Homo sapiens: one gene and its partners. The protein of the gene in region 2 purifies or fractionates together with the protein of the main gene of each other region. This does not show direct contact. Each region holds a gene or a part of one and is shown on either strand. Other genes may lie near its edges. The genes, in order: FRYL, ZUP1, TIMP3, POLE2, FNBP1, KRT4 and IPO5.

Evidence for each region.
Region 1: the proteins of ZUP1 (region 2) and FRYL purify together in Homo sapiens (affinity purification with mass spectrometry, with the first as the bait; one large-scale study listed by BioGRID). This does not show direct contact.
Region 3: the proteins of ZUP1 (region 2) and TIMP3 purify together in Homo sapiens (affinity purification with mass spectrometry, with the first as the bait; one large-scale study listed by BioGRID). This does not show direct contact.
Region 4: the proteins of ZUP1 (region 2) and POLE2 purify together in Homo sapiens (affinity purification with mass spectrometry, with the first as the bait; one large-scale study listed by BioGRID). This does not show direct contact.
Region 5: the proteins of ZUP1 (region 2) and FNBP1 purify together in Homo sapiens (affinity purification with mass spectrometry, with the first as the bait; one large-scale study listed by BioGRID). This does not show direct contact.
Region 6: the proteins of ZUP1 (region 2) and KRT4 purify together in Homo sapiens (affinity purification with mass spectrometry, with the first as the bait; one large-scale study listed by BioGRID). This does not show direct contact.
Region 7: the proteins of ZUP1 (region 2) and IPO5 purify together in Homo sapiens (affinity purification with mass spectrometry, with the first as the bait; one large-scale study listed by BioGRID). This does not show direct contact.

What each region holds. Positions count from the first base shown.
Region 1 is NC_000004.12:48,497,280-48,501,755, forward strand, and holds the end of FRYL (protein furry homolog-like), read right to left. Parts: intron 4,455-4,476; coding exon 4,344-4,454; intron 2,942-4,343; coding exon 2,751-2,941; intron 2,402-2,750; coding exon 2,143-2,401; 3' UTR 78-2,142; downstream 1-77. UniProt on the Homo sapiens protein: Plays a key role in maintaining the integrity of polarized cell extensions during morphogenesis, regulates the actin cytoskeleton and plays a key role in patterning sensory neuron dendritic fields by promoting avoidance between homologous dendrites as well as by limiting dendritic branching.
Region 2 is NC_000006.12:116,647,854-116,652,329, reverse strand, and holds part of ZUP1 (zinc finger-containing ubiquitin peptidase 1), read left to right. Parts: intron 1-137; coding exon 138-326; intron 327-592; coding exon 593-758; intron 759-4,476. UniProt on the Homo sapiens protein: Deubiquitinase with endodeubiquitinase activity that specifically interacts with and cleaves 'Lys-63'-linked long polyubiquitin chains. Shows only weak activity against 'Lys-11' and 'Lys-48'-linked chains.
Region 3 is NC_000022.11:32,807,553-32,812,028, forward strand, and holds part of TIMP3 (metalloproteinase inhibitor 3 precursor), read left to right. Parts: intron 1-3,763; exon of another isoform or gene 3,764-4,476.
Region 4 is NC_000014.9:49,646,319-49,650,794, reverse strand, and holds part of POLE2 (DNA polymerase epsilon subunit 2), read left to right. Parts: intron 1-353; coding exon 354-530; coding exon of another isoform or gene 531-542; exon of another isoform or gene 543-648; intron 649-3,434; coding exon 3,435-3,502; intron 3,503-3,702; exon of another isoform or gene 3,703-4,225; intron 4,226-4,476. UniProt on the Homo sapiens protein: Accessory component of the DNA polymerase epsilon complex. Participates in DNA repair and in chromosomal DNA replication.
Region 5 is NC_000009.12:130,032,594-130,037,069, reverse strand, and holds part of FNBP1 (formin-binding protein 1), read left to right. Parts: intron 1-4,476. UniProt on the Homo sapiens protein: May act as a link between RND2 signaling and regulation of the actin cytoskeleton. Required to coordinate membrane tubulation with reorganization of the actin cytoskeleton during the late stage of clathrin-mediated endocytosis.
Region 6 is NC_000012.12:52,805,435-52,808,944, reverse strand, and holds the end of KRT4 (keratin, type II cytoskeletal 4), read left to right. Parts: intron 1-94; coding exon 95-259; intron 260-525; coding exon 526-651; intron 652-1,080; coding exon 1,081-1,301; intron 1,302-1,551; coding exon 1,552-1,586; intron 1,587-1,694; coding exon 1,695-1,876; 3' UTR 1,877-2,396; downstream 2,397-3,510.
Region 7 is NC_000013.11:98,021,786-98,025,322, reverse strand, and holds the end of IPO5 (importin-5), read right to left. Parts: coding exon 3,501-3,537; 3' UTR 1,027-3,500; downstream 1-1,026. UniProt on the Homo sapiens protein: Functions in nuclear protein import as nuclear transport receptor. Serves as receptor for nuclear localization signals (NLS) in cargo substrates.

The DNA of each region.
Region 1 (4,476 bases), on a different chromosome or scaffold from region 2:
GAGGCTGAGGAGCAGAGAAGTGTAGGTTGGAGGAAAATGCTGTTGCAGAAGGCCATCCTAATGAATTTGTTTGCATCTTGCTTGCTGCAGGTATATTCATTTTTATTATATTAATAGACTTAGTTACATATAAATAAACACAAAAAGCAAATATCAACTGAAAGGTTTGGTTGGGTAGTCAACTAATTTTGTTCTTTTCTAGGGCAATTCAAGAAGGTAACATTTGAAAGGTTTCTAAATGATGCACACTGTAATCATTCATTCTTTGTTAAAATACAACACAAACCAACAGCTACAATGCTTTTTATTTTTAACAAAAAGGATGTAAGGAGGGTAAGAAAAACAGAGGACAGTAAGATAGGATGTAAAGTGTGATGTATCTCTGGACACCATCCCTCTCTGCCTGCCCCACACCCAAAAGTTTTAAATAATTTAAAGGATACCAATTACAGTACCAGAACACCATCAAAATAATTGTCTTTATCAGGGTCAAAAAATACAGTGATTATGAATGAGCTGTGACCAGTTACGAAATTTTACTGGAAATGTTTAACTGTGGTCAGCAGTCCAATGGTGTGCACAGTGCCTTCAATTAATGCACTTGAGCATACGTAATTACATTTCTGGCAGGGTCCACACCCCCCAAGAAAAGGTAAAGCTAAGCATTTCATTTCTACATTCTAAACTCTGGAATCACAGAGCCCAGTTTAAAAGAAAAGTCACAGTGGATAAGAGATGTATATAAAAAATACAAGGTGTTTCTTTCAAATCAGGAGTTGTGGGACTACATTCTTTTTTTTTTTTTTTCTTTCTTTTCTTACAAAATGCGATTTTAGAAAAGGATAGAGACTCCAGTTCATGTTATACTACAGACTTAGACAGTGAATAAGTATATTGCATGTTTTGGTAGTCAGTCTTCAGGCTTCCTTTCATTTCCCCTAGCCCCAGGTTTCTTTAGGGTAAAGCATGTGAGTCCTGAATAAAGATACAAAAATGCATTTGCAGCTCTTTTCTTGAATTCTGCAGACTTCAAAGCCTGCAAGTCATATATTCCATCATCAATGACCACAATTTTTCTTTAGCTTTGTACACCTATTCTTGTATAACAACAGTGCATGGCACAAATGTACAAGAAAATAACTGGTTTTAGTCTCTACAGTTTCTATATGGAGTAAAATAAGTTAAAACTTTTCTAATGAGAATAGCTGACAGGCAGCATACATCTTTATTTTACATTTTAAAGTCTCTGCAGGCATCTACTTTGGTTAGTTATCAACAATCATAACATAAGCACTGATCAGAGAACTGAGCAGCATTCCAATAACGTTAACAGATATATTATTTCTTTTTGAAATACTGGGAAAGCCCAGTTTTAAAATATTATTAAAATGTTCTAACATTTACATACTATGAAGAGTTAGATCTAATAAAATAACATTTCTTCAAAAATAATCTTGCAGTGCTCTTTTAGGCATGCTCTGAGACGTTATCACCAAACATCCATACCTTGAAAATATGACTATCACATATCCATACATCCCAACTCACACACACATAATTCCTTATACAGACCAAAAAACAAAAAAACCCAAACCCTTATCCCACATACTGAAAAATCAATGGTTTTTGCAAACGAGTCTTGATGCGTATAGCTGACTGCATGTTCATGTGGATGGATGATTAAGCATCAATTGCAGGTTAGGTTTTCAACTGCTAGAAATCCAAGCAGCTTTGCAGGTCTTCAGCTAAAATGAAACAGCCTTGATTTCAGCCTCATTTCACCTGCTTTTGGTTGTTTCAGTATTGGAGGCCATTATTGCAAACATTCTTGGAATTCTTTTCTTTCCCCAGAAAGTAATGTATTTGTAGGCATCACTTTTAGCCCTTTTCTTTTCACGTAGGTTAAGTAATTAAAAAATTCCTTCTTCACGCAGTTATTGTGGGAGATATTGGCAGCTGTTAAAATATCAGATGTTTTTTTCTTTCAGATCTTTGTTTTTGATGATACAGTTTGACATTAGTTACACTAAAAAGTAGATGCTGCCAGAAAGTTATCAGTGAATGCAAGGGTCCATAAAAGGTGCTTGGTTAATATTCTTCATCATCTTCAGTTTAGTTTCTTTCCTAAAGGCCTGAAGTGTCTCAGAATCCAGTGCTCACCATATTTCCCATTGGTTTGGCCTGTGCTAGAAGTTGGTATGATTGCACCATGCGTAGAGACTCTCTTATTTCCAGATTAAGTTCCATCAGTTTGTAGTTGGCTTCTGACATGTCCAGGTTAGAGCCTATAACTGCAAAGCTTCCTGTCTGGCCCAGCGTCTGATGATGGAAATATATATGTAACAGTGTCTGTACAGGGTCATCTTCACAACTGCCAAAGATATCACTGGGCCAGAGAGATCTGAAAATACACAATAGTTTTTCAGTTCTGAGACTTAGGCAATAGTTAAGACTAACTCAATTTAAGTTAAATACCTGTAACAACAACATTTCCTTGTGAATAACATGATCTGTTTTAATATTTGAGCAAATATTACTCAAAGTACCACCTGAATTCACTTTCAAAGTACCATCTGAAAGTGAAAAGAAATCTAAAATTGGTATCATTTCAGTGGCAACTGTTAAAAATACTCATGTTTTTCTTTCACAAAGACATGATATGGAAACAGCAAATTGAAAATGAAAACCTAGTATTACTAAACTTCCTGTCTAATTTAAAGGCATCACCTTTAAATCCCGTCACGTTTTACCTGAAAGCTTTGACTTGTGCTACAGCTGATATAAATTCTTTATTTTTCAAAGTTTCAATTAAAGAATGAATGGCAGTTTCTATAGTAGTTTGTGCAGCTTTGGAAATGTCAATTTCTTCGTTTTCGGAAGCGGACTCAGCTTCTTTGAGGATACTTTCCAGTTGGGCAAGTTCCTCTGACATGTTGATGACCTAAAACAAATACATCTTTAAGGATCTATTCGTATGTTTGGTAACAAAAACATTTAGTTGGCTACAAGAATATACCTGATGGCAGTAGCATTGTTGCTCTTAAAGATTATTTTAAAATGTTTGTCTTGGAAGAAAGGGCAGTTAATATTTCAAGTACTCCATTCTGTAGGAGCAAATAAATTCCACCAAATAGTAGTCTTGAAATTAAATGTTCTTGATAAAGCAACAAGTTGTAATAAATGTCTATATTGGTTTTAATATTACTACATTTTGGATAGTAAAAGTACATTTACTGTTATGGGGGATCATGAAAACTATATAACAGTAAAGTCTTTAGATTTTAAAAGATTATTTACCCCAGGGTATTTTTATATAAAAAATAAATACATGTATATTTCTTTTTACAGATTTAATGACTAAGAAATTAAATCATTTCCCCAGTGATAGTTTTATTACCAGCAGATGACAAGGGGGGGAAAAGACTAAAGTTAGCATCTTTGAGGCTATGTATTGATTTTCAACATTCAAAGTGTTTTTTAACATGTTTTTTCTTGTGTGCACTAATAAAACTGTAACAATGTGGGCTGGGCACGGTGGCTTATGCCTGTAATCCCAGCACTTTGGCAGGCCAAGGCAGTGGGTCACCTGAGGTCAGGAGTTTGAGACCAGCCTGGCCAACATGGTGAAACCCCGTCTCTACTAAAAATACAAAAAGGTTAGCTGGGTGTGGTGGTGCACACTGGTAGTCCCAGCTGCTTGGGAGGCTGAGGCAGGAGAACTGCTTGAACCCAGGAGGTGGAAGTTGCAGTGAGTTGAGATCATGCCATTGCACCGCAGCCTGGGCAAAAGAAGGAGACTCTGCCTCAAAAAAAAAAAAAAAAAAAAAAAGCTATAGAAATACGAACAACATGTTGAGGGAGGGGGGTTGATGATACAGTTTTATGTCTTTATTGAACTGATGTGCTTTGTTTGACTATTTTGATTTTCTGAGACAGGGTCTTGCTCTGTCACCTATGCTGGAGTGCAGTGCTGCAATCACAGCTCACTACAGCTTCTAACTCCTGGGCTCAAGTCATCATCCCAGCTCAGACTCTCGAGTAACTAGGACTATAGGTATGTGCCACCATCCCTGGCTTTTACTTGACTTTTGATTATAGATGATCTGTGTCTACTATGGAAACCTTTAAGGTCTTGAACCTTTTACAACTGCTGGATATCTGCTGTCTTATTTACTCATAGGTCCTGACATAGCACATCATTAAAAAACAAATTATTCCTTAACTAAAAGAAAAAAGACTCACTCTAAGTGACTTTTGACTTAAGCTATTTTAACAAGTAATAGATTTTATTTTAAAATTTTTTTAGAATCAGTTACTGATGCCTAATACAACTGAATATTTACCTCTGCTTCATTTTTTATCGTATTTACTTGGTTGATAAGTTTACAGTAGGCCTGGAACAGAAGCAGCAATTGAAAATGCAATTTGTATAATCTTCGGCAGAGCTCCAATTCCTAGAAATAAATAACATTACAT
Region 2 (4,476 bases):
ATAGCAAGAAGAAGGTGAAGAAGATGGAATTAACAGGATTTAGGTATGGTGCGTGAAGGAGAGGTTGATATTAAAAATGTATGAGATAGCAATATAAAGGTGATAATGACTGCTTCTGAATCTCTTTTCTACTTTAGGAATTATTGAAGCACTTCATAGGTATTATCAGAATGCTGCCACAGATGTGAGACGGGTGTGGCTTTCTTCAGTGGTGGATCACTTTCATTCATCTTTAGGCGACAAAGGTTGGGGTTGTGGTTACAGAAATTTCCAAATGCTACTTTCATCATTATTACAAAATGATGCTTACAACGATTGCTTAAAAGGTATGTGAAATCTAGTACTCTGAACTTGTCATCTGATAAAATACATATGATATAGAATGATATAGCATACACAATTAATAGCTTTAACAGTTAGTGGATATTTATATAAGAAACCTGAATTCTGGTTAGAGGAAGAGAAAATGATAGAAGATGTCAGGAATAACTGTCTTAAAAACCGTAAAGTTCCCCGAGTACATAATACACTGCTAAATATTATTCAGTACTTTATTAACAGTCATGTAACATGTTTGCTTGTGTAATTTTAGGTATGTTGATTCCTTGCATTCCAAAAATTCAATCTATGATTGAAGATGCATGGAAGGAAGGTTTTGATCCTCAGGGGGCCTCTCAACTTAATAACAGGTTACAGGGAACAAAGGCCTGGATTGGAGCATGTGAAGTATATATACTCCTGACCTCCCTAAGGGTAAAGTATGTACCTTAAAACCTAAATAAATGTTATTTCCTTATCGGGGAGCTTTGTTTTGTAAAATTTTATTTTTTAGCAAAGAGATAGTTTAAAAATAAAATTAAGTAGCACTAAATTAAGTAGCAATGAAAATCAGCAGCCTATTCACTATCTTGTGCTCTTCTCTACCCTCAAGTTCTGTCTCTCAGAGGCAACTGTCACTTCCATTGTTTTTAAATGGTATGCTTTCATAGCTGTTTCTTGGTTTATGAGTTTCAGATAGTCTGTTTTAATATCTTATACCTGTTTACCTTCAATCCTTCTGATATGATTAAATCTTGGTTTTTATTAAAATCAGAGTTTACATCATTTTATAAAGTCAGATTTTATTATACAATTGTGTAAATATTGCTTGTTGCTGATTTTTTCTAAAATCATTTATAATTTTTCTTGAGTTAATAATTGTGTTTCCTTTTCTCTTTTACTATAATATGTGACGACATCATGGCCTCAAGTTTTTGCACTCTACCTGTCATGTAATCTGAGGCTCTCCTTATTCTCGGACACATCCTTCTTGAGCATTCTGTCCTCTTTGCTCCAATCTGGACTTTTTGCCTTCTAGATCTACAGCTATTGTCATGTAGCATTTTTTCACTGTTTTGTGTGTGTGTGTGTGTGTGTAGTCTCATTTTTAAAATGTATAACCTATTTATTTTCTGTGGAAGTTATTCCAACCTTCTCTTAGCCCATCATAATTTCACGATATTATGAAATTTCACCATGGGGTGTGGGGCTTTGATTCATTGTGTTGGGCATTTGTTTTTCTCTTTGAATCTGGAATTGTGAGTTGTCTAAGATCTTAGTTCCATCTAGGATAGTAGGTAAGAGCTTGAACTTTGGAGCGAGACTGCCTAACCTTGATTCATAGCTTTCCTACTTAATAGCTGAATGAATGAACTTGTCTGTACTTAGGTCTACTATTGATAAAAGAAGGTATTAATAGTAGTTAGACAATTAAATGGGATAATAAAGTACTTAGAACTGTGACTGGCATACAGCATGACTTCAGAGGTTAACTATTGTTGTTTGATAATTATAATGTCTCTGTTTTCTTTGTGGAACTATTGATAGTTGGCCACTGAACTAATCTTTTTTTTTTTTTTTTTTTTTTTGAGACGGAGTTTTTGCTGTGTTGCCCAGGCTGGAGTGCAGTGGCGTGATCTTGGCTCACTGCAAGCTCCGCCTCCTGGGTTCAAGCGATTCCCCTGCCTCAGCCTCCCTAGTAGCTGGGATTACAGGCTTCCGCTACCACGCCTGGCTAATTTTTGTATTTTTAGTGGAGACGAGGTTTCACCATGTTGGCCAGGCTGGTCTCAACTCTTGACCACAGGTGATCCACCCGCCTCGGCTTCCCGAAGTGCTAGGATTACAGGCTTGAGCCACGGCGCCCGGCCTGCTTCTTTACCTTCTAAGTTTATCATGTCTCTTTTTTAAAAATCTTTGCTTTTTCTCTATTTTCTAGATTTACTCAACTTTATCCCCCAATTACTGTATTGAAATTTTTATTTTACCCATTATGTTAAGGGGTAATTTCATAGCATCATTTTCTTTATGGTTGCAAAATTTCTTCCAATGTTTTCTTTCTATTGCCTGCATTTTGTTTGTTCGATATTAGTATTTTTTCATATCTGTTTGTTTTAGTCTTTTCTATTTTGAAGGCTTTCTTTTAATTTTGGAAATCCTTAGTTGTCCATTCAGAGAGTGAAGAATGAAACATTAAAAAGCTGATTAGAGTGCTGTAGGACTGCACAGAGCTTGCAGATTAGCAGACTTATTTAAAAGTCTTAGGTGGAAGGCGGAAGGTTACTATTTGGTTGGGGAACTCTCAAATATCGTTATATAGAGAGATCTTTTCCCAGAAGTTATCCAGAGAAGAGTTTTTCACTCTCTTACCTAGAGTTCCTACATTAGTGGAGGGGAGAGTTAAGGTGTGATTTGCCTTCTAAGCAAACTTTTAATTAATCTCATATTTTTAGCCTCACTGTTCTCAAACCTTATGCTTCTAAGCTTTCAGCCTCTCTCTGATTTTGAAACATACGGTCTCCATTTTCTTTTATTTACTTTTATATGTTCTCTGTGGTGCTTTCCATTTTCTGAAGATGTGAGCTCTTTTCCTGTCTATTCCCATTCTCTTTGTCCTTGGGTGTTTAAATCATTTTTTCCTTCAGTATTATGTCATTGGGTTTTTAAGAGGAAATAGAGATAGATGTCTGTGATCGTGTTTAATGGAATGTTTGCGTTAAGCTTTATGGCTTTATATTTTCTTTTATGTTTGTTTCTAAGTTATTTAACCAGTGTATCACATTCTTTTTACCACATTGATTGATTAGATTCAGAAATAAAAATATTTCTTTCATTAACATAGAAAAACTAATGTTGTGTGTATGTATAATAACTTTCTTGAATTATTTAAAGAACTATTTTAATGCCCTCTAAATTTATTCCTGCTTTTCTCCTTTTTCTTTTTGCCAATGTGTTCACACTTTGAGATTATTTATACTCTATCATGTTTTGAGTTTTAAAGTAATTTTTTTCTTTTTCTTTTTCTTTTTTTTTTTTTGAGACAGAGTCTGTCTCCAGTCTGTCACCCAGACCAGAGTGCAGTGGCGCGATCTTGGCTCACTGCAACCCCTGCCTCCCAGGCTTAAGTGATTCTTGTGCCTTTGCCTCCTGAGTAGCTGGGATTACAGGCATGTGCCACCATGCCTGGCTAATTTTTTTTTTTCTGCATTTTTAGTAGAGATGGGGTTTCGCCATGTTGTCCAGGCTGGTCTTGAACTCCTAGGCTCAAGCGATCCACCCGCCTTGGCCTCTCAAAGTACTGGGATCACAGGCGTGAGCCACTGCACCCAGCCGTAATTTTTGTCCAGCTTCTTTCTTGGTACCTTAAATAATTTAGAAAGCTTTTTTATTAATATATCCTGAGTGTGTTTAGTAGTTATTTACATGTCTTTCTGTTGCTCTCTCTATGAGTTATATCCTGTAGGGTACTGTTTAATTAGTATTCTAAATGTAAATATGCAAACTGCTAACCCCAAAACATTCTTTTTAAACGGTTTATCCAGAAGTTTATTTGAGCACTTAAAACCCAGTAACCAACTGTAAGTTACCAGCATTAAATTTGCTGAGGCTGAGGTTAGCAATTCGGATGTTTTAGAGATTTTATTGCCAAGAGAAACAAGAACAGGATATCTGTGCTGTAGTTTAAAGTGATGATAAAGCTATCAAATGCTTTTAGTTATACCCGACCTTTTAAAAACAGTTGTTGAGTAGTATAAACAGTGTTTCTGGTTAAAAAAATGTTTATTCAAGGGTGACTTCCTCTTGAAGGAAGAATACCACGGTGGTCCGGTGGCAAATAGGAGATAGATGTATAGATTGAGTACACACACATTTTTCTATGATTTACAAGTATTTTCTGTTATAGAGATTTGAGAGACCGACAGGAAAAGTATTTAGGATCTATTTTATATATACCAATGGCTACTGAGGAATTAAAATCAGAAATCAGCTTCTGATCATCAGGGTTAGAAACTAGAATAAAAGCTGTGAAAAAATTATGTGTAGATGACTTTTTAAAAATCAAGTATGGTCATTATTTACTATTCATGGAGATTTTATATATCAGAGAATGTTTGTAACCTTTAGGTTAGTCAGCAGACTTATTATGAAGTTATTTAA
Region 3 (4,476 bases), on a different chromosome or scaffold from region 2:
TTCTCTCAGTTTTATGAGGGAGGTGTGCTATTGTCATCTCCATTTTACAGCTGAGGAAACTGAGGCTTAGAAAAATGAGGTAACTCGTTTAAGGTTATACTGCTAGCAAGGAATACAGCCTGTATTTAAGCCCCTTCACCCTGGCTCTAAAATATATTTAACAACTATACTATAGGTCACATTATACCATATCATATTATATATACTACTACATACTCTTATATTATTATAATTATATAATATGCATTTTCAATTTTAATAGTTCCTGCCAATTTGGCCTCCACAGTGGCTGTGTTAACACAGTTCTTTTCATATATGCAACATGAGGGGATGGAGGAATGTTAGAGCCCTGTGCTTAAGAGACTCCCATGCTTCTCTCAAATAGAAAAACAATTTATAATTTTTATTGACTTACTGAGTGTTTTTTTTCCTTCTTTTTGTCTCTTTGAAAGGGAGCAAAATTAGGGCCACGAAGATCAAGTTAATGGGAGTATTTTCATAGGGAGAGGAAGGCTGCAATGCCAGGAAAGCTGTGACCCTTGACTTGTTGCATGCTGGAGTAATTCGGTTGAAGATAGCTTTATGTATTTATTTTGCTTTCAGAATAAGCAGTGGACCATTTATTACACCAAGTTGTTTGACTTTGAGGACTTACATGGACTCAGGTTCAAAGGTATATGTGGCTGTGTTTTGAACACACATACACAGGGTTTTGCTTTCTGACTCAAAGCTGTCCGCTGGCCAGGCTCATGGTGGCAGCAAGGGCACTCACTCATCTGTCTCCCTTCTTGTTGCCTATGGATGGCACTTGGGTGAGAGCAGTGGGATGGTCACAAGGAGGAGGATGGACTGCCGAGAGGGAGGCTGGGTGGACCCCAGCCAAGAAGGACGCTGGGGTCTCATTATTATGGGAGCTAGAAGGCCTGGTTTAGGAAAGAATTCCTGTTCTGATGAAAGCTCTTCAGTGGACTCTTAGGATAAAGTATCATCAAATGGCTTTTACAAGGGCCAGTGTGGACCCTGCCTACCTCATCCTCATAGTCTCATCACTGGTCTGTCCTGCTCCAGCTGTTCATACTCTGTCTCTCTGGCTCTTGGCCCATGACACCCCCTCGGTTTTGAACAGTCCTCATTAACTTCTCATTCTCTAGGTCTCCTTTGGTTCCTTTCCCTGATCACTCCTTGGCATTGGTACAGACGAACAGTCATAAACCTTGCCCATATTTTAAGCATGCTGAAAAACACCATCTCTAGTAAAACCCAAATTCTCCAAAGCTGCATGGGAAACTCCCAGAGGGGATCATTCCTGCGCTGGGAGAAAGAACTTAGGGCTGCGTGCCACCCAGAGGGATAAACCTAACCCACTTTAGAGGGTAAGCACCCACTATGCTCTCTGCATTACTTGATAAGTCTAGTCCTGTCTTCTGGTGGACATGATACCCTAGCACCCTCCCAGAGAAGAAAGTGGAGATTTCTAAATGCCAACCCTGCAGGAGATCACAAACATAATACTGTAATTTTCATAGTAAGTTTGGTGCCCTTACTATGTGCCAGGCACTGTACCAAGCTCCTTACTTGCCTATCAGTCATCCCAGCTGCCTGATGAGCTGTCTCAGGCTAGGGAAGCCAAATGGCTTGCCCAAGCTCACACCACTTGCAACCTATACTTGCTTAGCCTATCTCCAAAACCTGTGTTTCCAATCAGTCTCTCATATAGACCAAGGGCTACAACTTTTTAGACTTGGGAAGATTCTACCCATTTTGCGACCTCTCCACATGAGTCTTTGGCTCCCCACTGTTGGGGTCCCCGTCAGTCTGCTTATCTTTGGTTTTCTTCCTCTCCAGACATGCCTTCCCTGCTGCCCCCAAATTTTATTACTGTATAGTCAGTTCTGGGATCCTAACATAACCAAGCCTTACCTCCTAACCCAGTGCCCTTTCAACTCTCTCAGTGGTTCCCAGACTTTTCAACACTATGGAATTTTTTAAAATTAATTTTTCCCTCCAATAAGTTCTGTGTTTGGAACAGTTATCCGACACAATTTCATGTGTTGAGTGTTGATTAACTTTCCATTAAAAAACAAATTAAAATATAACTAGAACTGCTGATACTAGCCAGTCATTATTCTGACACAATCAGCTAATATACTAATTAATTATAGCCGAAAGCAAGGACGGTTGGTGTTTTCATAAGCCTGGGAAGTTTTCTCATGGGTTCCTGGGTGATTGCATTGTCGGATTTGGGTTGGCTTACTGATATGCCTAAAATAGCTCCTGGCTTCTTTGGTATATCGCTGTCCTTTGCCCCTCCTGAGAATCTTTAGTTTCATGCCAGCTTAGCATCTCTTCTCCCTGTGGGCAGGTCCCATGCATTTACTGCCATTGTCACTTCTCCCTGTTACCCACAGTGCTGCCACCATGCCTGGGATAGACAGCAGGTAACTGATGTGTCCTAGTTGAGGTCCCTATCCTTTCAGAGGAGGTGACATGGGTTCAGATATTTTCCTATGTTCATGTCTGGCATCCAGGGGTACACAAAGTATTGATTCTAGCTAAAGGGACTTACTAAATACTGTTTGACAGGAGGCCCACAGGTGTCTATGTGGGCTGCAGTGGAACTAAGAGGTCTTTTTGTTCAGCTGTTAAAAAATTAGTGTTTGTAGCTTCAGAGGGGCCCCAGAGAACCTTTCCTGACCCATTTAGAGGCCATCTGTGTGGCTAGGATGGCTTTGCTGTCACAGAAGGGACAGTCCACACTACCCAACACTCAAGTCTGATTTATGTTCATGTAAATCCGATCACCTAATGGTGGCATTCACGGCTTGGAGACAAGAAACTATAAGTGTTTCCAAGCCTGCAGCCACCTGGCTTTTTGTGGGGGTGGGGAAGGGAAGGAAAGCTGTACGATCTGGCCTCAGAGAGCCCAAGGTAAAGTTCAGTTAGTGGAAAAACAGAGCCCTAGATGATTGGGCGGGGGGTGGGTACTGGGGAGTGGAGAGGGGAAGTCCTGAGCTGACCAAGCCTCCAAGAGCCATTCCGGAACTAGAGATCTTAAATACTACATGGTAATTATCCCCTCTGCCTCTGCCCATGAGGGTGTCAGGCACAGGGCCGCCTGGCTGCCTGCAGAGAAGAGCTGTTTCATTCAGAAACTTCAGAGCTCCTGCAATGCCTGGATTAGGATGTGGGGATGGTGAGTTTCGCAACCAGGGTCAGATTTCATGAAGACTTGGTTTCGTGACTTGAGGTGTTTGACTAAGGTGTTTGCATCTCATGTATTTAGGAAGGGCTCCCTTTTGACTTAGACTTTATCATCATGAATAAGCTCCCTGCCTTTTCGATTTGGAAACATGATAGCTCTAGTGAGCTCTGCTACTCCCAAGCTTGGGCAGGTTCTTTGCCTCAGTTTCCTCATCTCTAAAATGGGGGGAAATATATTATGTACCACGTGGTAACTTCATTGGCAATTAAGTGAAATACTTCATGGAATGTTTAGCACTAAATATTCCTTAGTGTTGAAAAGGCTGGGAACCACTGAGACAGTTGAAAGGGCACTGGGTTAGGAGGTAAGGCTTGGTTATGTTAGGATCCCAGAACTGACTATACGGTAATAAAATTTGGGGGCAGCAGGGAAGGCATGTCTGGAGAGGAAGAAAATCAAAGATAAGCAGACTGAGGGGGGCCCCAAAAGTGGGGAGCCAAAGACTCAGGTGGAGAGGTCGCAAAATGGGTAGAATCTTCCCAAGTCTAAAAAGTTGTAGCCCTTAGTCTATACAAGAGACTGATTCTTGGCACAGAATAGCTCAATAAGAATAAGCATGAGCTTTTAGTAGTAGTGTTGTTATAGAGCAGAGCTGATATTCTCACTTCACTTTCGGTGAGGAAAATGGCGCTCTGTGGTGTGATGTGATGTTTTCCAGGGTCATATAGAGAGAGCTGAGTTTCAATTCAAAATCGTGGTTTGATCCCCCCGCCTCCAAATCTAATGTGTTCCATTTTGTCACAGTGCTTCCCACAGGGCAGAGAAAGAAACAACAAAGTTCCTACTCTATTTTCACAACTCTTCACATTTTAGAGTCTTAAGTCCATTTGATCTCATTTGATGACAACTTCGCAACGAGGAAAGCAGGATGGTGATTGGGGGGTCGGTCATAGTTCCTAGTTAGTGGATGTCAGTATTGAGAATGGCGGGGTTCTGTGGCTTAGCCATATAGCCAATACATGGAATGGGATTGGAACCCATGTCTTCTGAGGGCAAGCCCAACACTTGTCAAGGATCTGGTGCTGCCCTTCCCTCTTTAGACAGCTCCCATTGATAAGCAGAGGTAGAAGTCACTAGGGTAGCCAAAGAGAGGGCCCTAGAAATGGAATGGTGACAATGAACTTGGCTGAAGAGTCAGCAACCGCTCCCCTATCCACTGCCAGGGCTAGGAGGTGCAGTGTGGCATGGAGGAGGAGCACTGGCTGGAGTTAGGA
Region 4 (4,476 bases), on a different chromosome or scaffold from region 2:
TTATTATTCATTTTATAATATTTAAAGTTTATGGACCAGGTGCAGTGGCTTATGCCTGTAATCCCAGCACTTTGGGTGGCTTGCTTGAGGCCAGGAGTTTGAGACCAGCCTGGGCAGCATAATGATGTATATGTTATTAAATGAAAACTCATAGATTTTTTTTCCTAAAATACAGAATAGTTTATTTCACTTTTAAATTAGTGTCTCCCAAAGCTCTGTGAGTCAAAGCTTTCCTAGTTTCTCAAATTTTCTGGTTCCTTTTGGTAATTAATATTTAATTTGAAATTATTTGTTTAGCTATTTTCACTTTTGCAAATGAACTGAAGTTTGCTTTGTTTTGTGCTCTTTTGTAGTTTGTAAAGACTATCTTATCCCAAGGACATCTGACTCCCCTACCTCTTTATGTCTGCCCAGTGTATTGGGCATATGACTATGCTTTGAGAGTGTATCCTGTGCCCGATCTACTTGTCATTGCAGACAAATATGATCCTTTCACTACGACAAATACCGAATGCCTCTGCATAAACCCTGTAAGAATGTAGTTAATCTTATATAGTCATTATTTATCAAGATTAGAGTGCATTTTTTAATTTAAAAATATATATTTAATAAGATTATTGTCGAAGTAAAAATATGCTATTAGTGAAACACTGAATTAAGTTTCTATACACAGAAAGTTGGTATACACAGAAAGTTCTTAAACTTTCAGTATAGTGACTATAAAGTAACATGACTTAAAAAACAAAAAAACAAGCATACCCACAAGCATACCAAAACATAAATCCAAAAGAGTAATTTTCTCCTCTTCAGAACTTATCTTGGGATTCCTTTCTGGGAATTGCTTCAGAGCCTGCATATTGGTGGTACTTGTCCTTTGAGAATGATTTTGATTTTTGGAAATTGCACAGGTCCCAAAAATCTAAGCCTGATTAATATAGAAACCTCATTGGTACATATTTTATTACTTAATTTTATGTAGAACCTTGAAATTGCTTCAGAATCTTGAGGTTGCTTCAGAATTTCTGCAGAAATATAATTGACTTTTAGGCCAGGTATGGTGGCTCACACCTGTAATCCCAGCACTTTGGGAGGCCGAGGTGGGTGGATCACGAGGTCAGGAGTTCAAGACCAGCCTGACCAACATGGTGAAACCCCGTCTCTACTAAAAATTACAATAATTAGCTGGGCGTGGTGGTGCGCGCCTGTAATCCCACCTACTTGGGAGGCTGAGGCAGGAGAATTGCTTGAACCAGGGAGGCAGAGGTTGCAGTGAGCGGAGATCACGCCATTGCACTCCAGCCTGGGCGACAGAGCGAGACTCCATCTCAAAAAAAAAGAAAAGAAATATAGGCCGGGTGTGGTGGCTCACGCCTGTAATCCCAGCACTTTGGGAGGCCAAGGCGGGCAGATCACGAGGTCAGGAGATCGAGACCATCCTGGCTAACATGGTGCAACCCCGTCTCTACTAAAAACACAAAAAATTAGCTGGGCGAGGTGGCGGGCGCCTCTAGTCCCAGCTACTCGGGAGGCTGAGGTAGGAGAATGGCGTGAACCCGGGAGACAGAGCTTGTAGTGAGCCAAGATCGCGCCACTGCACTCCAGCCTGGGCAGCTGAGCGAGACTGCGTCTCAAAAAAAAAAAAAAAAAAAAAAAAAAAGGGAAAGAAATATAATTGACTTTTTGAACTTGGAGAATAAATACTGCATAAACAATGACATAAACACAGTTATGTCAAACAAAATATTATCTCCACTAGAGATTTTTAATATGCATGCTTCCTTGATTCTTGTGAATTTTAGACTTTACTAATTTTTTGTTTCATCTGAGTAATTTCTAGAAACATCATGCCTTATTTTTGGCATGATGCTGGGCCTGTAATCCCAGCACTTTGGGAGGCCGAGGCAGGAAGATGGCTTGAGTCCAGGAGTTCACAACCAGCATGGGCAACATAGAAAGGGCCTGTCTCTACTTTGCTTTCCTCAAACACACAGTTTGTCCAGCTTCTTCTAAGACATGGCTTATCGGCCTTGGCACTTTTGACATTTTGGACCAAGTAATTTTTGGTGGTGGGGGCTATCCTGTGCATTGTAAGCTGTTTAGCAGCATCCCTGGCCTCTGTCCACTAAATGCCAGTAGTATTCCCCAGCTGTAACAATCAGAAATGTCTCCAGACACTGGCCAAATGTCCCCCTGAGGGACAAAGGAACCCTGGTTAAGAGCCTCTGCTTTAAGAATGAACACAGTTAACTGATTTGGTTTTATTGCTTAGAAATTTATGACCTGATTTTTATTCACATTGAAATAGTCTTTCATGGTGATGCTATTTCCTTACTTAAACTTTGGGCATTCTCCTAGTTAATGCTCTATTTGAATATACCTTATTTCTGAATTTTTCTACTTTTTCATCCCTGTGAGTAAACCACCACCTCCTACACCATCATTATATCTTTTTTACCTTATTTATACCTTTTGGGCAAGCTCAAAACTAGCCTTAGACATTACTTCATCCTTTCTTGATATTTATTCACATTAACGAATGCCTGCCATAGGCTAGGTGTTGGGTTCGGTGCTTGGGGCACAAAGACTGAAAAGACAGGGCCTCTGCTCAGCCACGTGAGAGTTTCATAGTAGACAAACAATTGTATGTGTGATTATTGCTCAGTTGCTTTACAGGCACATAGGAAGGGAATCAAACAGGTACATAGGAATGCAAATCAGTTTTGCATTAGAGAGAGGGGCAGGAAAGACTTCTTGAACTTGCTGATTGTCTCACATGCATATTTGGCGTTACACAGTCTGTTTATTTTTTACACTAAGTAGAGCTCCTCCTAAGCATTTCCAACCTCATCTTTTAGCATTAAGACTGTCTAGCCAACTCAAAAGACTTTTGCTTCAAGTGGAGATATTTTATAGTAACAACTCTGTAAAAAGATCGTGTAAAAATCTGTTGTGTTACTTTATAGTCACATCTTGTCATTTTAAGTCACAACCAAGGACTTTTAAAAAACAGGAATTATTTTATAAAACTTGAGTATTCGGCTGGGCACGGTGGCTCATGCCTGTAATCCCAGCACTCTGAGAGGCCGAGGTGAGCAGATCACCTGTGCCCAAGAGTTCAAGACTAGCCTGGGCAACACAGTGAAACCCTGTCCCTCTTTACAAAAAATACAAAAATTAGCTAGGCGTGGTGGCCCATGCCTGTGGTCCCAGCTACCTGGGAGGCTGAGATGGGAAGATCGCTTGAATCCCGGAAATGGAGGTTGCAGTGAGATTGCCCCACTGCACTCCAGCCTGGGTGATGAGAGTGAGACCATGTCTCAAAAAAAAAATAAATAAATAAAATAAAAAATAAAAAATATACATATTGTGTTTAAAAAAATTTATTTTAAAAAAAAGTCTGAGCATTCACTTACAGGCATTTTTCTCCCCCAAAGGGCTCTTTTCCAAGAAGTGGATTTTCATTCAAAGTTTTTTATCCTTCTAATAAGACAGTAGAAGATAGGTAAGTGTGTGCACAGACACAGCAAGAAAGATCTTTCTCTAGGTGTTAAATTACTGAAAATGAGATGTTCTATCAGTGTGTTGGGATTTTTGAAAATGTCTACAGTGGCCCATAAAGAAATATTATTGGCTGAGCTTATCACGGTTATGCTGTGTGACACAGAATTGTGGGTACATGATGGTACGTTTGTGTTGAAATAGATCAAGAACTGTTTTCTGGGGGAAATCTCAGGCCAGCTGTGGAGGTGAGCTAGTTCTCTTACAGGCCAACTCCTGACGATGGTCTCACTCTTCTGAGAGGTCAGTCCTGCCCTCCGTATGGTTGCTTCTTAGGTACTTTCCCTTAAATTGACAGTGAGGGAGCTGTGTGTGAGTTTGGTGATGGTATGGGGTTGGAGTTACGGAAAGGTCTTGAGAAAGAAGAAAATAATCACCTAGTGGGTAGTAGTTTTCACAGGGTGATCTACATAGATCACCCACATCAGAATCCTCTGGGGTCCTTGTTAAAAATGTTAAGTTAGGATTTTGCCCCAGACTCATCAAATGACTTTCTAATTGTAAAGAATAGGCATTTTAAATATTATTTCCTGTAATTTCAGGCATCCTAACATGTGATTTCTCAGATAACTGTATTTTGAAAAAGTTCCCACCACTGGTTAAGAACAAGTGCCCAGGCAGGGCACGGTGGCTCATGCCTGTAATCCCAGGACTTTGGGAGGCCGAGGTGTGTGGATCACGAGCTCAGGAGTTTGAGACCAGCCTGACCAACATGGTGAAACCCCGTCTTTATTAAAAATACAAAAATTACCCGGGTGTGGTGGCGTGTGCCTGTAATCCCAGCTACTCAGGAGAAGGAGGCTAAGGCAGGAGAATTGCTTGAACCTGAGAGGTACAGGTTGAGTGAGCAGAGATGGCGCCACTGCACTCCAGCCTGGGCAACAGAGTGAGACTCTATCTCAAAAAAAAAAAAAAAAA
Region 5 (4,476 bases), on a different chromosome or scaffold from region 2:
TGCTCCTTTTTCTTTTTTTTTTTTTGAGATGGAGTCTCGCTGGGTTGCCCAGGCTGGAGTGCAGTGGCGTGATTTCGGCTCACTGCAAGCTCGGCCTCCCAGGTTCACACCATTCTCCCGCCTCAGCCTCCCGAGTAGCTGGGACTACAGGCGCCTGCCACCGCGCCCGGCTAATTTTTTGTATTTTTAGTAGAGATGGGGTTTCACCTTGTTAGCCAGGATGGTCTCGATCTCCTGACCTTGTGATCCGCCTGCCTCGGCCTCCCAAAGTGTTGGGATTACAGGCGTGAGCCACTGCGCCCGGCCTACTGCTCCTTTTTCTTAACCCTTCAGAGATTTCTGTTTGGGATGAACATGGCAAGACCAACAGGGGAGATAATACTCCCTGAACCATGGTGGGTAGGGCAGAACTGCTTCAGAAGAGAAACAAAATCAACTTAGTTTTGCCATCCTTACTTCTCCATGAGAACAAATTTTGCACATGTCTTTTCTGTTTAGTGGATATTAAAAGAAAACAAACCGTGGGAGGCCTGGAGATTTTGCAGTTGATATTTAGATATCAGTTTTGTTGCCCTCACTTTGTACATTAGACAGAATCCTGAAAATTTGTGTAAATTGCCATTTTGGTAGGCAAAACTGTACTTTAAGCACATAAAAGAGTTTTATAAGTGTCTATACTTACTATGTGAACACATTACAACTCATGCTTTACATTGGTGAGACATGGAAAGTGCTTCTTTGAAGGACTATTCAAGTATCACCCACTAAGCAGCTAAAGCTAATATTATGTTTCCTGCAAGTATTACTCATACTTGTTTCATCAACACCACCCACATTTAAAAATAAGGCTTTATTTTGACACTTAAAAATTGAAAGCTACTAAGAATACATGAATGCCCTGGGAAATTAATCTAATTAGATTTTAGAATGTGGGTGTGAAGTCTTCTGGAATTAGTGTTTATAAAGGAATATTTGTTTCCTGTTTTACTTGTACACTCATACTAGCTTGAGCCTAGTAATGTGTTTAGTTAAAAAAACTTTTTTTTTTAATGATGAGGCCAAATATGTGTATTATATTAGAGAGTAATTTGGGGGTATGTAAGTTTTTGTTTGTTTGTTTTTTGAGATGGAGTTTCGCTCTTGTCGCCCAGGCTGGAGTGCAATGGCACGATCTCAGCTCACTGCAACCTCCACCTCCCGGGTTCAAGCGATTCTCCTGCCTCAGCCTCCCGAGTAGCTGGGATTACAGGCGTGTGCCACCACGCCTGGCTAATTTTGTGTTTTTAGTAGAAATGGGATTTCACCATGTTGGCCAGGCTGGTCTCAAACTCCTGACCTCAGGTGATCCACCCGCCTTGGCCTCCCAAAGTGCTGGGATTACAGGCATGAGCCACCGTGCCTGACCTCTCTATTATCTTAAAGTCTCGAATGATTGTTATCATTACTGCCATTTATTGAGTGCCTACTATGCCCCAGGTGCTGGACAAAGTGTTTACATCCATCATCTTGTTTATTTGTTACAAGAATCCAGCAAGGTAACTACCATTTGTGCCAATATCCTGGAAGAAGAGGCTTAGATGGAGTCATTAGTACAGTTTTACTGGGGAGTAACACCTGTGAAGGGGAAAGAGTGGAAGCCATCAGATCACGATGCAGACCTGACAGAGTCCCCACCAGGCCAATGGGGAGCTCCAGAGCAGACACAAGAATCCTCTGGCAGAAATGGCTCGGCCTCTGTATCTCTGCCTTCCTTTATCATTGGCCAGAGGTCGTCCCAAGAAGAGGATGGCCTTGGCTGCCAGCTTGCTTAGTCATTGGCTGGGGGTGCTACAAGAAGAGATGCCCTCGACTCAAAAGATGAGGTGGACCCTAAAGGAGGCTGCATGCTAGCCACAGTCCTTGCAGCTGGGCAGCGAGTCATTTTTTGCCACTTCTCCATGTTGCCCAGGCTGGGGTGCAGTGGCACGATCTCGACTCACTGCAACCTCTGCCTCTTAGGTTCAAGTGATTCTCCTGCCTCAGCCTCCCAAGTAGCTGGGATTACAGGCACATGTCACCACACTCTGCTAATTTTTGTATTTTTTTTGTAGAGACGGGGTCTTTCTATGCTGCCCAGGCTGGCCTTGAACTCCTGGGCTCAAGTGATCCTTCCACCTTGGCCTCCCAAAGAGCTGGGATTACAGGCATTAGCCACTTGGCCAAAAACTGGATCTTCTGTGTTAGTAGTGCACAGTTCCCTTTATCCCCACCACTCACTCATATTTCCCCATCACTGCAGTAGATTTTGCTTTATAAAACAGTTGATGTTATTCATATTGAGAATCACTGAGAATCAATGACTCACACCACTAAATGCTGCAGAGCCAGCAGAAACAGTCATGAATGAAGCTCGTACTCAAGCAGATGCTTCATAGATGTCTAGTAATCTCCTAATCCTTTCAAAGCCAGTTATTGTTTCTCTTTTCTAATTTAAATAAATTTGTGTGGATATTAATTAGTAGGAGTAGTATCAAGTTTCTGAATTTGCCCAACAGAAGTATGTCTTGGCGAAAACTATTTTTAAGGAAATTGAGAAAGAACAAGGAGGAATACAGAGTCTCACTCTGTTGACCAGGCTGGAGTGCAGTGGCACAAACATGGCTCGCTGCAGCCTCAATCTCCTGGGCCCAAATGAGCCTTTCGCCTCAGCCTCCTGATTAGCTGGGACCACAGGTGTACACTACCACGCCTGACCAACTTGTTTTTTTTTTTTTTTTTGAGATGGAGTCTTGCTCTGTCGCCCAGGCTGGAGTGCAGTGGTGTGATCTCAGCTCACTGCAATCTCCGCCTCCCGAGTTCAAGCGATCCTCCTGCTTCAACCTCCCGAGTAGCTGGGAGTACAGGCGTTTGCCCGGCTAATTTTTTGTATTTTTAGTAGAGACGGGGTTTCACAGTGTTAGCCAGGATGGTCTCGATCTCCTGACCTCGTGATCTACCTGCCTTGGCCTCCCAAAGTGCTGGGATTACAGGTGTGAGCCACCGCAGCTGGCCTGTCTAACTTTTTTTTTTTTTTTTGAGACAGAGTCTTGTTCTGTCACCCAGGCTGGAGTGCGGTGGCGCAATCTCTGCTCACTGCAAGCTCTGCCTCCCAGGTTCATGCCATTCTCCTGCCTCAGCCTCCCGAGTAGCTGGGACTACAGGCACCCGCCACCATGACTGGCTAATTTTTTTTTTTTTTTTTTTTGTATTTTTAGTAGAGGCGGGGTTACCATGTTAGTCACTGTGTTAGCCAGGCTGGTCTCACTCTCCTGACCTCGTGATCCGCCCGCCTCGGCCTCCCAAAATTCTGTGATTACAGGCGTGAGCCACCGTGCCCAGCCCGGCCTGGCTAACTTTTTTAAAAAAGTTTTTTTTGTAGAGGTGGGGGGGTCTTCCTGTGTTGCCCAGGCTGGACTTGAACTTTTGACCTCAAGTGATCACCGGCCTCGGCCTCCCAAAGTGCTGGGATTACAGGCGTGAGCCACCATGCCTGGCCGACATTCAGGGTTTTAAAGTTTTGAGTCTTCAGGAACAAGAAACGAAACACTTTCTCTATTATCTATAGCAGAAGAAAACTTGGGACCTGTAAAGGAATCTCCTCCCCTTGTACTTCTATTTGCACAGCCAAAATTGAGAACGGGTTCCTGAAATCCATTTAAAGACCAGACAGGCTCTGGGGACAAACGGTGTGGGTGCTCCCAGTTGAGTGAGGCAGTGCTGGAGGGCTCAGCCTGGGTTGCCTTGCTTACCTAATCTAATATTTATTAGTATCGGGCAAGTCCTTGCATCTCTGTTCCTCGCTTTCCCAATCTATAAAGTATGGTATGATGCTTGCCTTTCTCTTGACAAGAAGGCATAAAGGTGAGAGATTGTTCGTAAAGTACTTTGAGGTTGTTGGATGAAAGGTGATAGGTAAACACAAATTATTATAATCATGGGGAAGGTTAATGAAAAAAACTCTGGTCCCTGGGAACAAACTGTAGAACTCTCCTGCGGTAAGCAGGATTCATGAAAAATGAGCTATTTTCTGTCCTAGCCTTCTGATTTAAAATTTGGTGTACATGTTAACAATACAATAAACCTAATATTTGGAAAATGCCTGGAAATCGTTGCTTTGGACAGGAAATCTGGATTTCAGGAGGTCATATTAATAGCATGTTTATCTTTTCCTCCTTGAAGAAAAATAAAATCCACTCCAAAACACTAATCATACTAATTTTTAGCAGTATACTTGGGCCTTCTTAAGATTTAAGTTTTTTCTAGGGGGAATTAATTTTCTTTGGCTATTATTACCACTTTAAAAAAAAAAAAGTTCCACTGAAGTCACATTATTTCCTCACCTAAAAAGCTGGATATTTGCTGCTTGAAACATCTAATGAATTATTCTGCCTATCAGCTTAGTTTGGGATTGATTTCTTCTTGGCAGAGATAATGAAGAGGTTTAGAAGTATTTGCATT
Region 6 (3,510 bases), on a different chromosome or scaffold from region 2:
CACATTGTGAATGCCAGCTCTGCTCCTACTTGAGCCTGTATCAGGTCAGTGAAGGCTTTCCTGGGGGGGCTGATGTGAGACATTTGCCCTGCAGGAGCTGTCCCAGATGCAGACCCATGTCAGCGACACGTCCGTGGTCCTTTCCATGGACAACAACCGCAACCTGGACCTGGACAGCATTATTGCCGAGGTCCGTGCCCAGTACGAGGAGATTGCCCAGAGGAGCAAGGCTGAGGCTGAAGCCCTGTACCAGACCAAGGTGGGTGGTATGGATCTCTCAGGAGATGGGGCTGGCTCTGGGGCTCTGCTTTTGATGTCTGTGAACAGGTGATCATTAGCTCAAGCCCAATAGAAGTCAGATATGAACAGACTCTCCCAGGCATCGTTGGTCCTGGTCTGATTTGAAACTACTTGACATTTGGTGCTATTCTTGCCACCTGTGGCAATTCTCACTGAGTTCACTTGAGAATGGACCCTACCCAAATGCCCCTAACACCTGGTTCTCTGTGTCTTCTTGAGTCTTAGGTCCAGCAGCTCCAGATCTCGGTTGACCAACATGGTGACAACCTGAAGAACACCAAGAGTGAAATTGCAGAGCTCAACAGGATGATCCAGAGGCTGCGGGCAGAGATCGAGAACATCAAGAAGCAGGTGGGTGTCACTCCCTTCCAGATGGAGCACAAGGCCAGGGGCCTCAGGCAGACATCTCCAGAGTGGACAAGCAGATAAAGCATCAGGCCAGAAGACCCTGAGCTTGTTGCTGGGAATTCATAGCTCTTTGTGCAAGGCATACCCAGATTTTTTCAGCAATATCCTAGTTGGCACACCATGACGCTCCTGTGCATAGGTTTCTTGGCTCTTCTTCATGGGTTTTTGCTCATTTTTATTTAATCAGTCTGGTGGAGGCATTGGTGGGCTATGGCTGGAGTGAATGAGATGCATAAGTCTCAGGGAAAGTGGGCAGAACAGATAGAATCTTGACATCCTAACCCAAGGAAAGCTGGACCAGGGGAGGGGACAGGTGTAGAGGCCTTGAAGGCAGGGCACTGCTGACCACCTATCTAATGCCTTTGTCAATAGTGCCAGACTCTTCAGGTATCCGTGGCTGATGCAGAGCAGCGAGGTGAGAATGCCCTTAAAGATGCCCACAGCAAGCGCGTAGAGCTGGAGGCTGCCCTGCAGCAGGCCAAGGAGGAGCTGGCACGAATGCTGCGTGAGTACCAGGAGCTCATGAGTGTGAAGCTGGCCTTGGACATCGAGATCGCCACCTACCGCAAACTGCTGGAGGGCGAGGAGTACAGGTGAGGGGTTAGGCAGGGTGTGAACATGAGGGCCAGAGAGGTCCAGGGCCATGAGCTTATTTATGCCTCTGCCGGGCTGCAAGCATCAGTGTTGTGCCGGTGCATTACGAACCAGGACAGCTCAGCTAATAGGTTCACACTGGGCCCTCAAACTCAGAGGCTGCTCAAGGATAAGAGAGGTGAGTGAGGCATGCTTATTGAACAAAATTCTGTGCTCCCTGAGGCTCACCGCCTTTTCTTTCCCCTACAGAATGTCTGGAGAATGCCAGAGTGCCGTGAGCATCTGTAAGTACCTTCCACGCCTGCTGTAGTTGTTCATTCACCCGGGTCTTGCCAGACCCCTGGGGTGCTGGCAGCATTGGAATAACTGTGTCTTTTGTGTCTTTTCTGCAGCTGTGGTCAGCGGTAGCACCAGCACTGGAGGCATCAGCGGAGGATTAGGAAGTGGCTCCGGGTTTGGCCTGAGTAGTGGCTTTGGCTCCGGCTCTGGAAGTGGCTTTGGGTTTGGTGGCAGTGTCTCTGGCAGTTCCAGCAGCAAGATCATCTCTACCACCACCCTGAACAAGAGACGATAGAGGAGACGAGGTCCCTGCAGCTCACTGTGTCCAGCTGGGCCCAGCACTGGTGTCTCTGTGCTTCCTTCACTTCACCTCCATCCTCTGTCTCTGGGGCTCATCTTACTAGTATCCCCTCCACTATCCCATGGGCTCTCTCTGCCCCAGGATGATCTTCTGTGCTGGGACAGGGACTCTGCCTCTTGGAGTTTGGTAGCTACTTCTTGATTTGGGCCTGGTGACCCACCTGGAATGGGAAGGATGTCAGCTGACCTCTCACCTCCCATGGACAGAGAAGAAAATGACCAGGAGTGTCATCTCCAGAATTATTGGGGTCACATATGTCCCTTCCCAGTCCAATGCCATCTCCCACTAGATCCTGTATTATCCATCTACATCAGAACCAAACTACTTCTCCAACACCCGGCAGCACTTGGCCCTGCAAGCTTAGGATGAGAACCACTTAGTGTCCCATTCTACTCCTCTCATTCCCTCTTATCCATCTGCAGGTGAATCTTCAATAAAATGCTTTTGTCATTCATTCTGAGCAATGGTCTTTTTTCCCTGGGGAGAGGTCTCTAGAATCCTGTATAACTAGATAATTTTGGTGAAGGTGTATGCTTGCGGGTGTGAAGGATCTGTTTATACAGATCTGGGTCATCGACTAGTTTCTCAGGTCTCTACTTCTAAGTTACTCAAATTATTGGGGGAGAAGTACAGTGTACAGAGGCTGAAGGTTGCCTACAGGGCAGTTGTACAGATTGAAGGGGCATCCAACAATTATACACACATTGTCCATTGTAGGGCACCCTGGGGTAGCACCATTTCAATGCTGATCCTGGAATAAACCTGGAGGGAAGGGGTTTAAGTCTGCAGGTGGGGGGCATTTGATAGGTGTGAGAGAAGCAGGCCAGGGGTCTCTGCTGAATATAGAGCAAGAAGTTATGGAGCTTATGAGAGTGCTTATACTCTGTGTCTAGCAAGGCCTCCCTATTTTCATGAAATTCCATGCATGGGGCTAAATCTCACTGGCCCAACAAGGCTTTCAGGAACCTGTTCCAAGAATCAACAAGGTCACGGTTGTTGGAGGGAGGTGTGCATGTGTGTCATTCTCCTAGAGTTTTCATGAGCTGCTCACTTCCCCAGCTCCTCAGGGGTGCCTGGGGTTATGTCTGTGGTGCTGTCCCTGAGTGGCGAAGAATGTTGGAGGTGGAGCAGGTCTTCTGGAGCAGGAGTGGAGGGAGCTGTCTAATTACAGAAGCGGGGAGAGGACAGTCAGAGGTGGGGGTCTGGGTAGATTTGGGGACACCCTTTTTCTATATTGGACCAATTCCAAGTACCTGGAGCAGCACAGTCTCCCCTCTTCCAAAGATTTCCCAGCTCCTGCTCTGCAGTCTGACTCGAATCAGTTTGCTGCAGATGCAGAATGCACTCTCTGCCTTGGCCACCCTACTGTGCCTCCCACCCTTGACTGCCGCAGAGTTCATTCAGACTCCAGTTCCTCCAGCCCTGTGTCCATGGGGCCTCATGGTGTGCAGGCAGAAAGGCACGTCGTTTGCCCAAGACCAGTCCTTGCCCATGGGAGTCTCGTGCAGATCCAAGGTAGGCTCAGGGTTGTTCTGCCTTTGGGAAAGCGGGGACAGAGTAGCAAAGGG
Region 7 (3,537 bases), on a different chromosome or scaffold from region 2:
AAGCTCCTGAATCATGAAAGAACAGATTTCATAATTATACTCTGCTGCCTTAGTGGAATTTAGAAAAAATTTTTTGTAATGTTTTACAAAAAATTATATTGTACCACTTTTGGATTCATTGAGAAGTGAATAATATAGCTATAATTTATCTTTAAAATGTTTGTATTCATCCAAATATAATAAATACATAGAAATAATCAGCCCAAATGTTGTCTGGCATACACTGTAAGGGTTACAGCTGTGTGGGGAAAAAAGGGTTTAAGTCTAGGGCAGGATGTTGTTAGAATTAACCCCTGCTCCTCAGCACCACCATTCAGAAGTTCCAAGTGCTGGAAATAAATATTCATGCTTCCTCCCAAGTGTGATGTGCATACATTGTGGATCATTCACTTTCTTCTTCTAATAGTGGTACTCATACTTTTAGGGCCGAGAAAGAAAATCTGCTTAGGAATAGCAAACATGGCAGGTTTTGGCTGTTAATCTTTTGTGGCAAAGAAGGTTAAGAGAAGCAAAGTGATTTCGTTTTTTTTTTTTTATTTTTATTTGAGATGGAGTCTCACCCAGTTGCCCAGGCTGGAGTGCAATGGCACAATCTCGGCTCACTGCAACCTCTGCCTCCCAGGTTCAAGTGATTCTCCTGCCTCGGCCTCTGGAGTAGCTATGATTACAGGTGCCTGCCACCACACCTGGCTACTTTTTGTATTTTTAGTAGAGATGTGGTTTCACCATGTTGGCCAGGCTGGTCTCCAACTCCTGACCTCAGGTGATCCGCCTGCCTTGGCCTCCCAAAGTGCTGGGATTACAGGCGTGAGCCACCGCGCCCGACCTGCAAAGTGATTTCTGTGCAGCAGAGAAAACTGACCCAACAATCCTCCTAGGCAGAATGAAGCAGTTATTAAAACATTTAGCTAGCTCCTTAGCCTTTCACGTTGCTTAAACAGGCACTCACTCAAAAGATTAGATCATAAAAATATAATGCTTGCAAGACTGTAAGTAAGCACCCCCCTTATTTATTATCAGACCAGGTGCACCAAGACCATTTATTTGCTTATGTCTTTACTGATGGTTCTGTCAAACTACAACTCCAGAGTTATAAGGTTGCCTCTCATTACAGAAGTGTCAATTAGATTTAAGACAATTTTACTTTTCTTTAAAGATACAGCATTTAAAAAATACTCCAAATTGAGTTATGCCAAAGTTTCTAACACTTGTGCGTGTAACTTGTTACAAAATTCCCAGAAAACGTAAGAGCCACACACATTTTTCCCCTCCAGAAATAGCTTGCATTTATAAACAATATATATCACTTGCTGACATGCAAGACCCCTAAATTTGGTACAAAAGCCAAGAAAAAACTCCATGGATTTTCATCTTGCATAGACAGAATGAGGTATTAAAAATGCTTCTGCAGGTCCTTTCAAAGAATTGTTAGTTCATGGTACATCTCACAGTTAGTTCTGAGCTCTGGGTTTCAGAATCATGTCACACTAACAGCATTTACTACCAACCTTCCCTATTAACTTGATTCAACTCCAATTACCTCTTTGCTTTTCTGCTTTTATCAAGGAGGATGCTGCCAGTCTGCATCTAACAGAGCGCTTCTTTCAGAGCTCTTAGAACCCTGCTGTAAGTACATCTCAGATACTAACGGCATCTGACAATACCACTAGTGTTTAAACTGGAAGGTAGGAGGTTCTTGCTCCCAAAGTGCTTAGCATAGTGCCCAGCAAACACTAGGTTCTCCCAAAAAACATCTTCTGACCACACTGTCATCTGAAATTCTGCAGGTGTGCCATGATTTTAACATGTTTCTTTTCTGCAAGTGTAGTAATAAAGTGTAGTAATAATTTAAATTAAAAAAAGCCTACATTGCTCTAGCTGATTGGCATCAGTACATGAATCGGCTTTGCAGATGCTACATAAGAAAGCAGAAAGGGGTTGTCTTGACACACTTTTTACTCCAATTCCCATTTTTTTCTCCCAAGGAATACAGGCTATAAAGCTCCAAATATTACCACACATTACAAGAGCCCACAGGTATTCATCCACTGAACACAAGGACTGCGCAGGTGGAGTCATTTAATATGCTGCTTTGCTAGATTCGGAAGCCTCCGGGCAATGGTGTTGTGCTGCAAACGTAAAATATATTTGAAGGGCATCTGCTAACAAGGAAACCATCTGTATGTAATCCATTCTATTTTCTATTCCATTTCAGATTTAGTTTTAATAAAGTAATACAAATCATTTAAAGAAAAAACCTTTAATTTAAAATTCTGATCTATGCATAAAATTCATTTTTATATCACGGTTAAATTTAGTACAAACTATAAAAATGTTAACACTGAAGTTTTCAACAGAAGTCTATTAAGATGCCTTAGAAAAATTAAACAACAGCAAGTCATTTACTGCTATGAGGTTAATACATAAAGAAACATTCACACATTTTACTGAAATTTTCAGTAAATAACTTTAGCCATAACACTTATAATTAAAAGTTCAAAAGTTGTGTGTGGCTCTACAGCAATTATAATTTGCAATGAAAACACTAAGCCAAATCTTTTTGAGCTGATCAGAACAATCTTAGCTACAAAATTGGCTGAAATTTGCAAACCTTAAAAAGAACACCAATTGTGAATGGAATAGGTATCATAACTTAGCTTAAAGTGGAAGATGGTAAAAACTCGATGCTTAAGTCTGAATTGCACAAGGAAAATATTAGGGGAAAAAACACTCAGCTATTACTGATAGCTATTACTTTAAAAAAATATTAGATCATTCTTATATTAAAAACATGAAATGAATCCAAGCCAGACAGTACTGAGTTTTTACACAAGCCTCTTTTGTATTCAATGTTGTTTATTGAGGAGTGAATGAGAGACTACTGCCAGACATGCCAATGACACTTCACATTCAAGGGCTGGAAGCTGGAAAGCTTCCCGACTGAGTCACTGTATAAGCCTTCTGGGAAAAAGAACCAAAGTGACATCAAATATGCCATCTTCATGCTTGTTGTCTGTCATCAGTTTTTTTCAACTTTTGGGTCTACTGGTTTGCTGGGTAGGAGGCTTCTTTCTACCCTACAGAAAGACTCACACTCCCAATTCACAATGAACACTGAATGCAGAGCAATTTGTGTGAACACACATCTACGCTGAGTAACTGTTCTTAAAGCTGTTTTTCCTTAAATTTCCTTATGTCTAACGAGAAAAATTAATTTGATTTCCCTTTCCCCTTCAGGTGGGCGGGTTATACCAATAGAAAAATAGTCTTCAGTGCTAGCTACCGCAGGGCTTCCAGGAACTCCTTCAGTGGTCTGGTAGAAATCCATGGAAACTCCATTCTGCAACACAGCGCTGCTCTTCCTGCTTGTGGCTCTCCAGAAGAATGGCCTACACACAACACTACCGATCTCTTTTGCTCAAAAACAAAACAAAGAAACCTAAAGGAAAGGGTAAGCGTTTATTTGGAGTTAGTTTTCTGGTGGGTGACATTAAGGCCCTTCACGCAGAGTTCAGGAGCTCCTGAATGGCGGCCTGC